Linked DNA regions of Homo sapiens: region 1 is reported to be linked to region 2. The links are microRNA targets in miRTarBase. Many come from high-throughput screens and were not tested one by one. Region 2 holds a microRNA gene; the other region holds the end of a gene's coding sequence.
What was found. Region 2 holds the annotated microRNA hsa-miR-5100 (UUCAGAUCCCAGCGGUGCCUCU, at 3,471-3,492, shown strand). A microRNA usually pairs through its seed, bases 2 to 8, with sites in the 3' UTR of a target mRNA and lowers its output. Matches are read on the target gene's strand: a 7mer-m8 pairs with bases 2 to 8, a 7mer-A1 pairs with bases 2 to 7 and ends in A, and an 8mer does both.

Region 1 (7,426 bases), not on the chromosome of region 2:
TTGTTATGCAACTATCACCCCCATCCACCTTCAGAACGATTTGCGTCTTCCCCAGCTGAAATTCTATACCTGTTAAACACCAACTCCCCTTTTTCCTCTTCCCTCCGGCCCTCGGCAACCATCCTTCTACTTTCTGTCTCTATGACTTTGTGTCTTGTTTTTTTTTTTCTTTATCTCCAGCTTCCCAAATGCTGCCTGCTATATAGTAGGTGTTTAGTAAGTATTTGTTGAGTGCACGCGTGGGAAGGTGCCAGGGTGGGCGGGAGGGCTGGGAGCGGATGGCGGAGATGTTCAGACACAGCTGGGGTCGCGGGCGTCTGACTGCGAGCTGTCCTCTCTCCCGCAGGCCTGCTGCTCTTGGTGAGCCTGGAGGTGTTCCGGCATTCCGTGAGGGCCCTGCTGCAGAGAGTCAGCCCGGAGCCTCCCCCGGCCCCACGCCTCACCTACGAGTACTCCTGGTCCCTGGGCTGCGGCGTGGGGGCCGGCCTGATCCTGCTGTTGGGGGCCGGCTGCTTTCTGCTGCTCACACTGCCTTCCTGGCCCTGGGGGTCCCTCTGTCCCAAGCGGGGGCACCGGGCCACCTAGAGCCACGCGTGAGACTTCTCTAAGCAACCACCGAGCCCTTTGACCTTCTCCATTGTACCCCCAAGATCTTTTTGCCCCATCTCCTAGAGAAACTGTGTTCTCCCTGCTCGGGGGCCCATGTTTTTTTACACGCCTGCCTCCTGTCCCCTTATCCTTTCTCCCTCTGTAAATACGTTTTTCTCTGTGGCTGTATGTGGGTTGCTTGGGGGTGGGATGGGAAGAGGCTCTTTGCAAACGAGGGTCCCCAGAGAAGACTGGCGGGGACCTGATGGGGTAGCTGGGGTGTGGGGTTGGGGGATGAGGTCAGGGGGTCTTGGGTGGGAGTTGGGGGCCCCTTCATTTCCCAGGTCTGGATCGATTCACTTGCCGGGAGAGACTTTTTACAACTCATCTGCAGCTCCGGGTGCGGTTGGGGGAGATAGCGAAGGGTCTGGCCTCGCTGTGATCTGATTTGGGATTAAAGGTTTGGAAATTTAACAACTTTGCTTTGGAGTCTATTTGTGATGTGATCGTGCATTCTGGGGTAAAGAAAAGTGACCCCATATTCCCTCCAGAAACATACCCTCCAGAAACACTTTTAAGCCCAGAAGTCACATGAAAACGAACCCATACACAATGGTTGAGAGTGTGGAAAACACAATATATTTTTTATTTTTATTTTTATTTTGAGACGGAGTCTTGCTCTGTCTCCCAGGCTGGAGTGTAGTGCTGCAATCTTGGCTCACCGCAACCTCCGCCTCCTGGGCTCAAGTGATTCTCCTGCCTCAGCCTCGCAAGTAGCTGCGTTTACAGGCACGAGCCACCATGCCCAGCTAATTTTTGTATTTTTTTTTTTTTTTTAGAAGAGACGGGGTTTTACCATGTTAACCAGGCTGGTCTCGAACTCCTGATCTCAAGTGATCCACCTGTCTCAGCCTCCCAAAGTGCTGGGATTACAGGCGTGAGCCACCGTACCCCACCCAGATTTCCCCTTTACACATGACTCCTGTCATACGTGATTAGGATTTACCCCCAATGACCTTATTTTAACTTGATTATCTCTGTAAAGACCGTATCTCCAAATGAGGTCACATTCTTAGGTACTGGGGGTTAGGGTCCAACATATATATATATATATACATTTTGTAGGGGAGAACATTCAACCATTAACAGTGTATATATTCTAAATTGTGTTTTCTGGTCGGGTGTGGCGGCTCACGCCTGTAATCCCAGCACTTTGGGATGCCAAGGCGGGTGGATCACCTGAGGTCAGGAGTTCAAGACCAGCCTGGCCAACACGGTGAACCCCCGTCTCTACTAAAAATACAAAAATTAGCTGGGTGTGGTGGCAGGCACCTGTAATCCCAGCTACTCGGGAGGCTGAGTCAGGAGAATTGCTTGAACCTGGGAGTTGGAGGTTGCAGTGAGCCGGGATCTCGCCACTGCACTCCAGCCTGGGTGACAGAGCAAGACTCCGTCTCAAAAAAAAAAAAAAAAAAAAAAAAAATCAAAAAGGTGGGGGGAAGGGGGATTGGTTCAGGAAAGCCTTCCGAAGAAGATGACGAACTTGAGTCTTCAAGGTGAGTAAGAATCAGAGAAAGTGGAGAACGTCACGGGCGTTCCAGCTGGGTGGGAGAGCCTGGACAGAAACAAGAGGAAAAACATGATGAACCTGTGAGTGAGGAAATGTGAACGCTGGTGTTCAGAGTGAGACACAGGAAACGTGAGAGGGTTGGGGTGGGCTGTCTTATGAACAAGGTGGAGAGACTCAGATGCTCAACAGAACAGCTTGGCCTTTACCCTGAGGGTACTGAGGAGCCATGGGAGCTTGCTGAGCAGAGACACACTGGCATCAGGTCAAGGGGTTGAAACAAGGTTTCTTATTCTTGAAGTCACTAAATTGCAGACCCGGAAGACAGACTAGTGGTTGCCAGGTGTTAAGAAAAGGGTGAGTCTTGGCCCCACGCGACGGCTCATGCCTGTAACTCCAGCACCTTGGGAGGTCGAGGCGGGTGGATCACCTGAGGTCAGGAGTTCGAGATCTGCCTGGCCAACATGGTGAAACCCTGTCTCTACTAAAAACAAACAAACAAACAAAACAAATCAACAACAACAAAACATACAAAAATTAGCTGGGTGTGGTGGCTCACATCTGTAATCCCAGCACCTTCGGAAATGCCTGTTCTAATTTAGGTCCATGGGCACAGGCCCTAGGGTAGAGCCCTTGCCAGAGACCCTGCCCTTCTCTACCCAGCAGTTCTCTGCCCCCCTCCCATATCAAAATGCTTTTTCTGCATCTATTGAGATGATCATGTGATTTTATTTTTATTTTTATTTTGCAGTCTCACTCTGTCGCCCAGGCTGGAGGGCAGTGGTGCGATCTCGGCTCACGGCAACCTCCGCCTCCCGGGTTCAAGCAATTCTTGTGCCTCAGCCACCCCAGTACCTGGGATTACAGGTGTGCGCCACCAGACCCAGCTAATTTTTGTATTTTTAGCACAGATGGGGTGTCACCACGTTGGCCTGGCTGGTCTTGAACGCCTGACCTCAAGTGATCGTCCCACCTCCGCCTCCCAAAGTGCTGGGGTTACAGGCGTGAGCCACCGCGCCCAGCTGACCATGCGATTTTTGTTTCTAATTCTGCATTCTTCCATTCAACAAGCAGAAGTGCCCCGCAGTGCCTGGGCACCTGGGAGCCAGGCTGGTGTGAAAGCCCAGCTCCCCGACCTATGGCTGGGGCAACAGCTTCACCTCTCTCTGTCTTCGTTCCTTCATCCCTAAAGACGGTGCGTGAGCTCAATCCTGTACCTACTCCCAGGAGTCACCGTCGGGAGTAAACGCCATCATGAGCCCTGCAAAGCTCCCAGGAGACCGCCTGGCACGTGGTCGCAACTCGATCTGCCTTTGCTGTTAGTTTTTCTCAAGTGGCACTTACAGAGTAAACAGGGACCCCCGACGACGAGCTGACAGCCTGCTGATGGAAACAGATACTAATCACATCACTGAAGTAATGAGCGTGCAATTATAAACCAAGTTAAGTGCTAGGAGACAAGAGAGTCCACAATTTTTTTTTTGTTGTTTGACTTTGTGCCCAGCCAGGTCAGGGAAGCCTCAAGAGACATCTGCCATGGGGGTGGCGGAGATAGTTGGTCTTGGGGGAATGGCCCTTCCTTCCTTCCTTCCTTCCTTCCTTCCTTCCTTCCTTCCTTCCTTCCTTCCTTCCTTCCTTCTTTTCTTTCTTCCTCTTTCTTTCTTTCTTCTCTCTCTCTCTCTCTTTCTTTCTTTCCTTCTTTCTTTTTCTTTTTTTTTTTTTGAGCCGAAGTCTCGCTCTGTCACCCAGGCTGGAGCTCGGTGGTGCAATCTCGGCTCACTGCAAGCTCCACCTCCCAGGTTCACGCCATTCTCCTGCCTCAGCCTCCCGAGTAGCTGGGACTACAGGCGCCCGCCACCAAGCCTGGCTAATTTTTTTGTATTTTTTTTTAGTACAGACGGGGTTTCACCTTGTTAGCCAGGATGGTCTCGATCTCCTGACCTCATGATCCACCCGCCTCAGTCTCCCAAACTGCTGGAATTACAGGCGCGAGCCACTGCGTCTGGCCTCTCTCTCTTCCTCCCTCCCTCCCTTCCTTTCTTCCTTTTTCTTTCTTTCTTTCTTTTTTCTTCTTTCTTTCTTTCTTTGTTTCTTTCTCTTTCTCTTTCTCTCTTTCTCTCTCTCTTTCTTTCTTTCTCTCTTTCTTTCTTTCTTTTCAAGATGGAGTCTCACTCTGTCCCCCAGGCTGGAGTGCAATGGCACAATCATGGCTCACTGCAGCCTCGACTTTCCAGGTTCAAGCGATTCTCGTGCTTCAGTCCCCCAAATCCCTGGGACTACAGGCACACACAGCCACAGCCAGCTAAGTTTTTGTATTTTTTGTAGAGATGGGGATCTCCCACTGTTGCCTACATTGGTCTTGCACTTCTGGTCTCAAGTGACCCACTCGCCCTGGCCTCCCAAAATGCTGGGATTACAGGCATGAGCTACCGTGCCTGGCCACTCTTCATTAAAAAAAAGATAAATAAATAGAGATGGGGTCTCACTGTGTTGCCCAGGCTGGTCTCAAACACCAAGGCTCGTATGATTCTCCTGCCTCGGCCTCCCAGGTACATGAACCACCGCACCTGGTGGGAATGGCTCTTTGTCCAGTGGGGTCATCATTCTGAAAACTCTTTCTTACCCGGGGTCAGGGCAGGGAAGGTTCAAAGCCAGAGACTCAAGAGAAAAGGGAGATGGCAATTTTCCCCCAAACCCTCCCTGACCACACTCCGAGTGGTTCCCCCACGGCCAGTTCAGGCTTCAGCTCTGGGTGGGGAGAGACTGGAGGGAGGGGAAGGCAGAGATATAACATAGATTGATCAGAAGTGGGAGAAGGAATTACAGACCTCACAAAGACAAATGACTGGAATCACATCATCCTATGAAACAATGTATTGTTGGGGCTCAGAAAACAATACCCCCGAAGTAAGGATGACGTTTGTCAGGTGGAGCATTTGAACTAAAGGAGATTAGAAGGTCTCAGAGGCGGCCGGGCCATCATCTCTACAAAAAATACAAAATAACTAGCTGGGTATGGTGGTAAGTGTCTGTAGTCCCAGTTACTGAGGAGGCTGAGGCAGGAGAATCACTTGAACCCAGGAGATGGAGTTTCAGTGAGCCGAGATCATGCCACTGCACTCCAGCCTGGGTGACAGAGTGAGACCCTGTCTCAAAATAAAATAAAATAAATAAAATAAAATAAAATAAATTAGCTGCTGCTGCTGCTGATGCACAGTGCTATGTATGAGTGTTCCAACAGTAGCTATTTTAATTAAATTAATTTTTTTGAGACAGGGTCTCTCTCTTTCACCCAGGCTGGAGTGCCGTGGCGTGATCACAGCTCACTGCAGCCTTGACCTCCCAGGCTCAAGTGATCCTCCCACCTCAGCCTGCTGAATAGCCGGAACTGCAGGTGCATGCCACCACACCAGGCCAATTTAAATTTTTTTTTTAAAGAGATGAGATTTCACCATGTTGCCCAAGCTGGTCTTGAACTCCTGAGCTCAAGCGATCTGCCCACCTCAACCTCCCGAAGTGCTGCAATTACAGACATGAGCCATCGCGTCCAGCCTATTTTAATTTTATAACCTCTCATGAAATCTCTCCTTCCTCAATTTCTCTTCTGAGGGTTCTGACTTTAGCCGGAATTGGAAAGAGGCCCAATGCTTCATGAAGGATGACAGCTGGAGAAGTACTAGAAGGTTGCCTGGCAACAGTGGTGTTAGGGCAGAAAGGAGCAAGTCCCTGGGTGGTTTCCTAGCAGAAGGAATGTGGGCAGGGCTGAGCCTAGGAAGCAAGATAGGAGATGACAAGGGTGCCCAGATCATCAACTTCTGAAGAATTTCTCATCCCTGCACCCCAGAGCCTCTGGACACAGCCCATCTCTCATCTCTCTCTCTCTCTCTCTCTCTGTCTCTCTCTTTTTCTCCCCTCCCTTCTCATCTTTTCCTCGTCTTTTTTCCCTTTCCCTCTCATCCCTCCCTCCTCCTCCTTTTACTTCTTTCTTCCTTTTCTTCTTCCTCTTCCTCCTTCTCCTATTACTATTACTACTGATAATAACAATAGCTAACATTTGTTAAATGCCTCATCTGAGAGATTTTCTTTCGGGGTGATTAAAAGTTTCTGATGCTAGGCCAGGTGCTGGGGCTCACACCTTTAATCCCAGCACTTTGGGAGGCCAAGTTAGGCAGATCGCTTGAGCTCAGGAGTTCAAGAACAGCCTGGGCAACATGGTGAAAGCCAGTTCCCTATAAAAAAAAAATACAAAAATTAGCCAGGCATGGCGGTGCATGCCTGCGGTCCCAGCTACTCGGGAGGCTGAGGTGGGAAGATCACTTGAGCCCAGAAGGTCAAGGCTGCAGTGAGCTGTGATTGCACCCTTGCAATCCAGCCTGGAAGACAGAGTGAGACCCTGTCTTGAAAAAAAAGAAAAAAAAAAAAGGCCAGGCGCGGTGGTTCACGCCTGTAATCCCAGCACTTTGGGAGGCTGAGGTGGGCAGATCATGAGGTCAGGAGATCGAGACCATCCTGGCTAACATGGTGAAACCCCGTCTCTACTTAAAAAAAGTACAAAAAATTAGCTGGGCGTGGTGATGGGCACCTGTAGTCCCAGCTGCTCGGGAGGCTGAGGCAGGAGAATGGCACGAACCCAGGAGGTGGAGGTTGCAGTGAGCCAAGATCACACCACTTCACTCCAGTCTGGGCAACAGTGCAAGACTCCGTCTCAAAAAAAAAAAAAATTTTTTTTCCTGACACTAGATAGTGGCAATGCTTGCACAACATTTTGGAGGTACTTATGTACTTAGTATCAGTAAGTATAGTACATTTTTTAAATAGTTAGAATGGTAAAATCTTGCTTTAAGTAACGGTAAGATTTTACCACAAAAATAAAGTCCAGGCATGGGTAAAGAATAGTTTACGACCACTATGAAATAAAGAGAAGTGAGCATGAGGAGGTTCTGAAATGGGTATCACTCCCTGATAAGAAGCTAGAAGGAGGCCAGGCGCGGTGGCTCACGCCTGTAGCCCCAGCACTTTGGGAGGCTGAGGTGGGCAGATCACGAGGTCAGGAGTTCAAGACCAGCCTGGCCAATATGGTGAAACCCCATCTCTGCTAAAAATACAAAAATTAGCTGGGCATGGTGGTAGGTGCCTGTAATTTCAGCTACTCGGAAGGCTGAGGCAGGAGAATCGCTTGAACCTTGGAGGCGGAGGTTGCCTCCAAGATCACGCCACTGCACTCCAGCCTGGGCAACAGAGCGAGACTCCGTCTCCAAAAAAAAAAAAAAA
Region 2 (7,868 bases):
CATTAGGAGGCCAAGGCAGGCGGGTCCATTTGAGCTCAGGAGTTTGAGACCAGCCTGGGCAACATAGTGATACTCCATCTCTACAAAAAATACAAAAATTAGCCAGGCATGGTGGCTTATGCCTGTAATCCCAGCTACTCTGGAGGCTAAGGCTGGAGGATGACTTGAGGCTGGGAATCAGAGGTTGCAGTGAGATCATGCCACTGCCCTCCAGACTAGGAGACAGAATGAGACCCTGTCTCAAAAAATAAATAAAAATAAAAATAAAATAAAATAAAAATGGGCAAAGGATTTGAATAGATGTTTCTCTGAAGAAGATGCACAAATGCCAATAAGCACATGAAAAGATGCTCAACATCACTAATCTTTAGAGAAATGTAAATTAAAGCCACCATCACTTCACCTATTGGCATGGCTATAATCAGAAAAGCTAAAAGTAACAACTGCTGGTGAGGATGTGGAGAAACTGGAACTCTTGTGCATTGATGATGGAAATGGAAAGTGGTATAACTGTTGTGTAAAATAGTGTGGTCATTCCTCAAAAAGCTAAATGTATAGTTACCATGGAATTGTGACCCAATAATTCCATTCCTAGGTATATACTCAACAGAATTGAAAACAAGAAATCAAAAAATGCTTGTGTCCCAAAGTTTATAGCAGCATCATCCACAAAAGCCAAAAGATGGAAACCAGGCAAAAGTCAACCGACAGATGAATGGATAAATACAGCGTGCTCCACCACACGGAATATGATTCATCCGCACAAAGGAACAAAGTTCTGACACACATGACAACAGAGATGAACCTTGAAAACATTATGCTGAGTAGAATAAGCCAGACACAAAAGGACAAATATTGTAGGATTCCAGATCTAAACTAGGCAAATTTATAGAGACAAAGCAGATTAGAGGTTACCAAGGGCTAGGGGTGGGGGATGGGAGGTTATTGCTTAATGGGTTCAGATTATCTGTTTGGGATGGTGAAAAAGTTTGCAGTGCACAAGAGTTCCAGTTTTGGAAGTAGATATCAGTGATGGTTGCACAACATCGTGAATGTAATTAATGTGAATTATACACTTAAAATGGTTAAAATGGCATTTTTGTGATGTATATCTTTTGCTACAAAAAGAACCATTTTTTAAAGAAGCAATGGTGAGCAAAGTTGGTAAATCTGTAGGTAGATCCAATAAAGCCTTGACAATTCAAAGAAAAGTAATAATTAATTTATGGCCATACAAACAGGGTGAGGCTAGTACTCCAAACAGCAAAGCCTAGCATGCCCAGTACCGGGCAAAGAGCAGGGGGAGACACGGGCTGTGTCTACACAAGGAGCATGCCTTTCTAGCACAGGTATTAAAACTTTAGGACAATTTATTAAAGAAATAGAAAATATGATCTCTGTGTTAGTTTCCTGTGATTGCTATAAGAAGTTACCACAAGTCTGGTAGTTTATAACAACAAAAATGTATTCTCTTGCAATCCTGGAGGCCAGGAGACAGAAATCAAGGTGTGGAGGAGGCAGAGCCATGCTCCCTCTGAGGCTCGGGGGAGGAGCCTTCCTGGCCTCTTCCAGCTTCCCACAGCTGGCATCATTCCTGAGCTGGGCCATGTCTCTCCAATGCCTGCTCTCTGTTTACAGGGCCTTGTCCCCTGTGCAGGTCTGGGTCAAAACTCCCTCTGCTTCTCTTTTATAGGATACATGGTATTTAGGGCCCTGGATGACCCAGGACATGCTCCTCCTCTCAAGGTCCCTCACTCGATCACATCTTTTGCAATACAGGTGATATTCACAGGTTCCAGATTAGACATGGGTGTATCTGTGGGAGTCATGATCAGCCTACCATAACTTCCAAGCAATTGGGAAGAAGAAAAAGAATACAGAAAATTGAGTATTTCTAATAGAAGTTAGGAAAGGAGAGAGAAAATGGAAGTCCAGAAGCCAGGACAAAAAAATAAGTGGTGGAAATAAATTTTCCTAGATCCAGAGAAAACAGTAACCATGAATGTACTGAACAGAGACTGTCAGATTGGACACAAAAGCAAAGTCTTGTGTCAGACGTTGCTTACAGAGGTCACAGTGAAGTATAGAAAGGTAGAAGGCAAGAGGGTGTGGAAAGCCGTGGAGTGTAAATACGGATGGGATGAAAGTTGGTGTGGCCGGGCCAATCCCCAACTTAGACTTAAAGACACAGAGAATCCCTGGGAATGGAGACAGCGACTCCCAGATGATGAAGCAGCAGAGAGATCCTCCAAGGGTGAGTGACCTAGAGCACTTTACCAGCTTTGTAAAGGAAAAGGCATTTGCCTGGAGGCTGCAGGGCCCAGTCCAGCCTAGCTCCAGGACAGCTCCAACCCATCCTCCCATGGGTGGGGTGTCCCTGGTCCAGGCTAGGGACGGTCCAGGGTGGGTTGGCAGGACCTGCTGTGATCGTGAAGTTGGGAACTGCCTAAACCATCTTCTCAGAGCCTGTGTGTCCAGAGGGAAAACCCAAGCACGTGGAATATGGTTTACAAGCCGTGGTTGCTGAGGACAAGGTTGGTAATGAAGGCGCAGGGAAGCCTGGGAGGGCAGAAATGCACAAGGAGGGGTGGGGCTGGAGCCCGGCTGGTCCTGGTATCCTGGGCTTGGGGGGACCCTGCTCCTTTCCCTGGGAGCCCTGAGGCCTCAACTGGATGACAGGAGGTGGATATGCTGGTCCCTGAGGCACAGGCAGTATGAACCTCTGCATGGAGCTGGGTCTCAGCAGAAGCCCACCCAAGCCTGGAGTTTCCCAGCCAGGGATGCACCTTTTTCATCCCAGCAGCCTCTGTCCCTCAGTCCTGAGCCCTCAGGGGCCCTCAGGGCATGAAAGCAGGAATCCCAAATCCACCTTCCAGAATTACACGGGCTGTTCTTGGTGGTCAGGTGGCCTCTCGGGGCCAGGGTCCTTTTTAAGACTGGAACCTCTCCAAGCTCACCAGCACTCTCAGTGCACGCACGCACGCACACACACACACACACACACACCAGGATTTTAAACTCAGTCCAACAAATCTCAGCATGCACCAGAACTATTTCAGCATTTTAAGAGCCTGTATTGATTTTGGAAGGAGCCAGGCAGCGTGTGAAGGCCATTCTGTCTGGGATCCTATGCTGAGTCTGGGGTCTCTGTATGAGGGATTATCCATGTGTGGGGAGCCTTCCCCCTTCAGAGCTTTCCAGCTTCCCTCTGATCACATGTCCTGAGCACACTATCCCAAACCTAACCCCAGCTGGGCTCTAGCAAGAGACGAGGTCCTGTCTTGCTGGGAAAGGGTCATCCTTCCCACCCGGAGGCCCCTGCTCTGCCCCAGTTTCCTGCCACAAAGCCCAGACAGTCCTGGGAACCTGGGCTGGTGAGTCCCTCCATCACCTTCAGAAACAGCCATGAGGAGCTGGCAGTGGGATGGCCTGGGGGTAGGAGCGTGGCTTCTGGAGCTAGACCACATGGGTTCAGATCCCAGCGGTGCCTCTAACTGGCCACAGGACCTTGGGCAGTCAGCTGACCCTGCCCAGTCCCAGCATCCTCATCTGGTCTTAGCTAACAGGGACACACCTGAGGAGGTGGTCTTCATGTCACTTCCACTGGGACCAGTTTTCAGAGCAGCTGCAGGGGTCATCAGTTAAGGCAGTACAGCCCACTTACAGAGGAGGCGGGTGGCTTGGGGTGTGAAGGACGTGCCCAGGTGACATGCTGCTGAGTGGCCCCAACCCCATCCAGGCACCAAGCCAGAGCCTGTCCCCAGGGACCCCAGGGCACATCAGCAGAAGCTGGAGGATGTGGGTCTCCTGGGCCTGGAATCTCAGAGCCCACATTGGTTAATTTCACACGTCCGCTTGACTGGCACACAGGGGGCCTGGATGTTTGGCCAGACATTATGCTGGGTGTGTGTCAGGGGGGCTCTGGGTGAGATGAACACTTGAATCCATGGACTGCAAAGCAGACAGCCTCCCAGTGTGGGTAGACCCATCCAACCTGTCGCAGACCTAAGCTGAACACAAAGGCCAAGTAGGAGATAATTCATTCTGCCTGGCTGCCTTAAGCTGGGAGCTTGGTCTTTTCCAGGCTTCAGACCTGAACCGAAGTACAGGCTCTTCATGCATGTCAAGCCCCTGGCCTTCAGACTGGGACAAACTCCATCAGCTCTCCTGGGGCTCCAGCTGGCCAGCAGCAGATCTGGGGACTTCTCAGACTCCACTATCTCATGAAGCAATTCCTTGCCATCCATCTCCTTTAATAAACACACACGCATCCTATCACTTCTGTTTCTCGGGAAAACCTTAACTAATGCAGAGCCCGAGAGTGGGGCATGGCTCAGGGCTGCTGCACCCAGGAAGCATCTGTGCTCCCTGTGCTTCCAGGCAGGGACCCTCATGGAGGGGTGGGATGGTCGTACTTCCTCAGCCAGCACTTAGGGGCCGTGAGGTCCATAGCCATGAGCTGAGGGAGTGACCCCACAGTTTATGTCACTGTGGAGAAAGGCTCCCTGAGCTGTGGATCCAGCCAGTGGGTTGTAAACCTGACTAAGACACTCAAGCTGCTGCGGCCGGGGGCATGCCACAAACCCCCAGTGAGCCTCAGTTTCCCCCTGTAGAACAGGGGTGTGAGAGCAGTCTCCTCAGGGTGTAAAGAGCCCAGCAAATGCCGGGCACAGCTCATACCAGATAAGCATTAGCTGGTGGCAGAAAAGCTGGAAGACAGACTGCTGACCTCCACAAAAGGATCAGATTTGTGCCAGTCCTGGCCATGGACAACAGGTCCCAGGCTTGACCTGTAGGTGAAGAGCCCAGAGCCCAGGACCACATGCCAAGTGGGAGGCTCCTGGCCCAGAACACCACACCTGCCTAGCAGATGTGTCTCCTGGAAGTGGGAAAGCAGGACTCTCCAGGGAGCCCTGGGGATACAGAGGATGCAGCCCGCGAGGCCCTGGCCTTGAAGCCTTAGTGTCTCTGCAGGCCCCACCTGTGATTGGCCCCTCCAGGGTCACCCAGGAGGGTAAGATGCCCAGGGCCTGCATCTGTGCTGTGGGACACAGCCTGGCTTCTGAGGCCCATGGAAACCTTTCTCGGGAGCTTCTCAGGACCCCAGCCAGGACATCTGTGCCTGTCCGTGACAGCTGCCCTAGAACTGGCCACAGGCCTATGGCTGCCTTGCACTGTCAGCCCCCAACGCCCGTCGTGTCATCAGCATGTCTCAGATGCCTTCAAGGGCTGCCCACTCCATGATCCTTGTCCACAGCCCCAGCATGTCCCCTAGCGTCAGAAGTGTCCCCGGATCCTGCAAGCCAACCACATAGGACGTCCACCTCTGAGCCCCTCTGTTCTCCTACCCTCCTGCTGATCACAGCCCTGCTGCCTGGCCTCATGGTCCAGTGCATCTTTCTCCCTGGAGCTGCCACAGTGCACCACCTGCCTGGCTATGCATTGGTGACCCCTAGGAGCTCCAGGGGGACCTTCACACAGGCCCAGGACAACTGGGGAGTCCTGCCTGCCCTCCTTTGAGTCCAGAAGCCCTGAGCCAGGCTCTCTTCAGAGGGGTGGAGGTCAGCAGGCACCAAGGCCTGCAGTCCCCAATTCTCCTCTCCCAGCTGATCTCTCTTGCCACACCCTGTGCTGGCCCATGCCCGTGAGTCCGCCTGGCCACCCAGACGGGAGCTGATGTCTCCAGGAGACATACGGGACTTGCCATAGCCCAGGCCAGGGCAGTCCCTGGGAGACACAGGGCCTGGGAGGCTGCTTCACCTGCGGGGCTCCTGGGCAGGTGCAGTGCTCCCTGGAGTCCATCCTGGGACCTGTGGCCCAGCCCACCTCAGACTGGCCACAGGCCCTCTCCTGAGAACCCCTGCCTAGGCTCTGTAGCCTTAGAGCCTCACCTAGAAGCTCCCCCAGGCCCCTCCACTGGGCAGTGCTCAGCGCCCACCCCTCTCTAGTCTAGATTTTAGGGGGAGCCTGGGTCCAGGCTGCCCAGCCCAGCACATCCCCAATACATACCCAAGCCAGCCATGATTGCACCATGGGGCCAGGGGCAGTGGGGGTGGTTTGGGGTTGGTGGAGGCATCAGGGCCTGGGTCCCACAGCCAGCCTGGGCCTCCCAGGCCATTGAGCCCTCATCCTTCCAGTGCTCTGCGAGCAGGCGTCCCTTTGTGTGAGGACACCTGTGGTGCACCCCTTCAGTCAGGCATCCCTGCAACCCACTTGGGGGTGCAGACATGAAGGAGCCCATGGGAGGCAGCATGATGGCCCTCTACATCCCCAGGCTCCTGTGCTCCTTCCTTTCAGATGGCATTCATTGAAGGGGCAAGTGGAAGAAGGACGGGTTTCCCAGCAGATGCTGCAATTCAGCCCCTGGCTTGGGATTTGTGTCATTGATATTATTGATAAACAGAGAACACAGGTTGACAAAAGACAAGAGAGGCCACCAGAAATCCATGAAGACAGAGCCTCTTCTGGAGAGAGCAGGCTGTTGGCCACCCTGAGACCCCTCCCCAACTTGCGCCTGGCCTGGATTTTGCAGGGGACGGGGCTGGGGAGCTGGTGCTGGTGTAGCCACCGGCCCTGACACCCAGCCGCGTGACCTTCTCTCGTGGCCTCACAGTCCTCCCTTCAAGGGTCCCAGGCCTGCCCCTCGAGGCCCTCTGCCCTCCAGGAGCGCCCCCATGTCCTTCCCAGCATGGGCAGTGCCTTACAGACACAGGAAGGCTAATGTCAGTGGAGGGACACAGTGACAAGAGGAAGAATGTGCAGCGCCCTTCAGGAGCGTGGTGGGGCCCCAGCAGGGGAGGAAGGCTCCAAGGGGGATGACAGCATGGCTGTGGCAACGACAGTTCCATGATGGCAGTGGGGGTGGCGGTGGGGGTGGCTGACCTAACACAGGGGAGGTAACTGTCCAACAGGAGCCAGGCTCAGCCAAGGAGTACAGCCAGGAAACCTCCCCTTCCCTCCCCCTGCACACCACCCTGGATGAACTGAGGGGCCACCCAGGCACTGGAGCCTCTGCTGCTGTCACAGAGTCAGGCTTTGGGCATGGAGCAGCTGGCAGAGGGGTGGGTGCTGAAGGGCAAGTGGACTCCATGGAGAGGGCCCTGATACGGGGAGGCTCTGCTGGTCTCCGGGAGCAGGTCAGGACCTGAGCAGACTCTCTGGGCTCCTCAGGAGACCACCCAGGGCACACCCAGCCCTGCAAGGGTCTCTACGTGGTGCCGTCAGTGCCCTGCACCCCCTGGTAGGCTGCCCACACCTGTACCTGCTGCCCCACCCAGCAAGGCTGCAGAGCTGCGTGGTTCATGCCCACCTCCAAGGACCCCATGGGGCTGAAGGAGACAGCAGAGCTGCCCAGCTGCAAGGTTGTCAGAGGACCCCTGTTTTTCTGTATTTCTGACAGTAGGAGATGGTGCCATTGCTGGAAGATGGGCCTTTCAGGCTGGCACCCAGCCCCGCCCCAGGGGGCCACGCCACCTCCCACAGGCTCCTGCATGGTGGGCATGTCCCAAGCCAGCCTCATCTGGCCAGGTTGTCACTCTGGGTAAAGTGAGGTGGCAGCCCTGACCTGCCAGCAGCAGACAGTAGAATTCTACAGAGCATCCTTCAGGCTCCAGGGAAGGACAGAGCCCTGAGCAGCAAAGACTCCAGGAGGCATTGTGGCTTTGGAAGCTTTTCTTCAAAGCTTCCAAGCCCATGTTCAGGCCACTTTGCACCTGAGTGACAGCATTTAGCTTTCTTTGTGTTAGGAGAAACCCATGGATTGACTTTCTTTTCCTATTTCCTCCGGGGGTGAAGTATCATAAGCCAGGAAAAAGTGGGTCAGGGACTGTCTAGGTGACCCTGGAGAGCCTCGCCAGGAGCTCCAGGGG

Region 1: miRTarBase lists CACNG6 as a target of hsa-miR-5100. Seed matches in the 3' UTR shown: 7mer-m8 at 1,029-1,035.

The regions. Positions count from the first base shown.
Region 1 is chr19:54,011,605-54,019,030 of GRCh38, forward strand. CACNG6 (calcium voltage-gated channel auxiliary subunit gamma 6) reads left to right here. Exons shown (of 4, transcript NM_145814.2): 4 at 347-1,062. The coding sequence ends at 585. Among named protein-coding and RNA genes, the nearest start is that of CACNG6, 24 kb to the left of the region's middle.
Region 2 is chr10:42,994,160-43,002,027 of GRCh38, forward strand. It overlaps MIR5100 (microRNA 5100), which reads left to right and starts at 3,404; the gene lies at 3,404-3,522. RefSeq lists enhancers at 3,271-3,771, 6,366-7,061.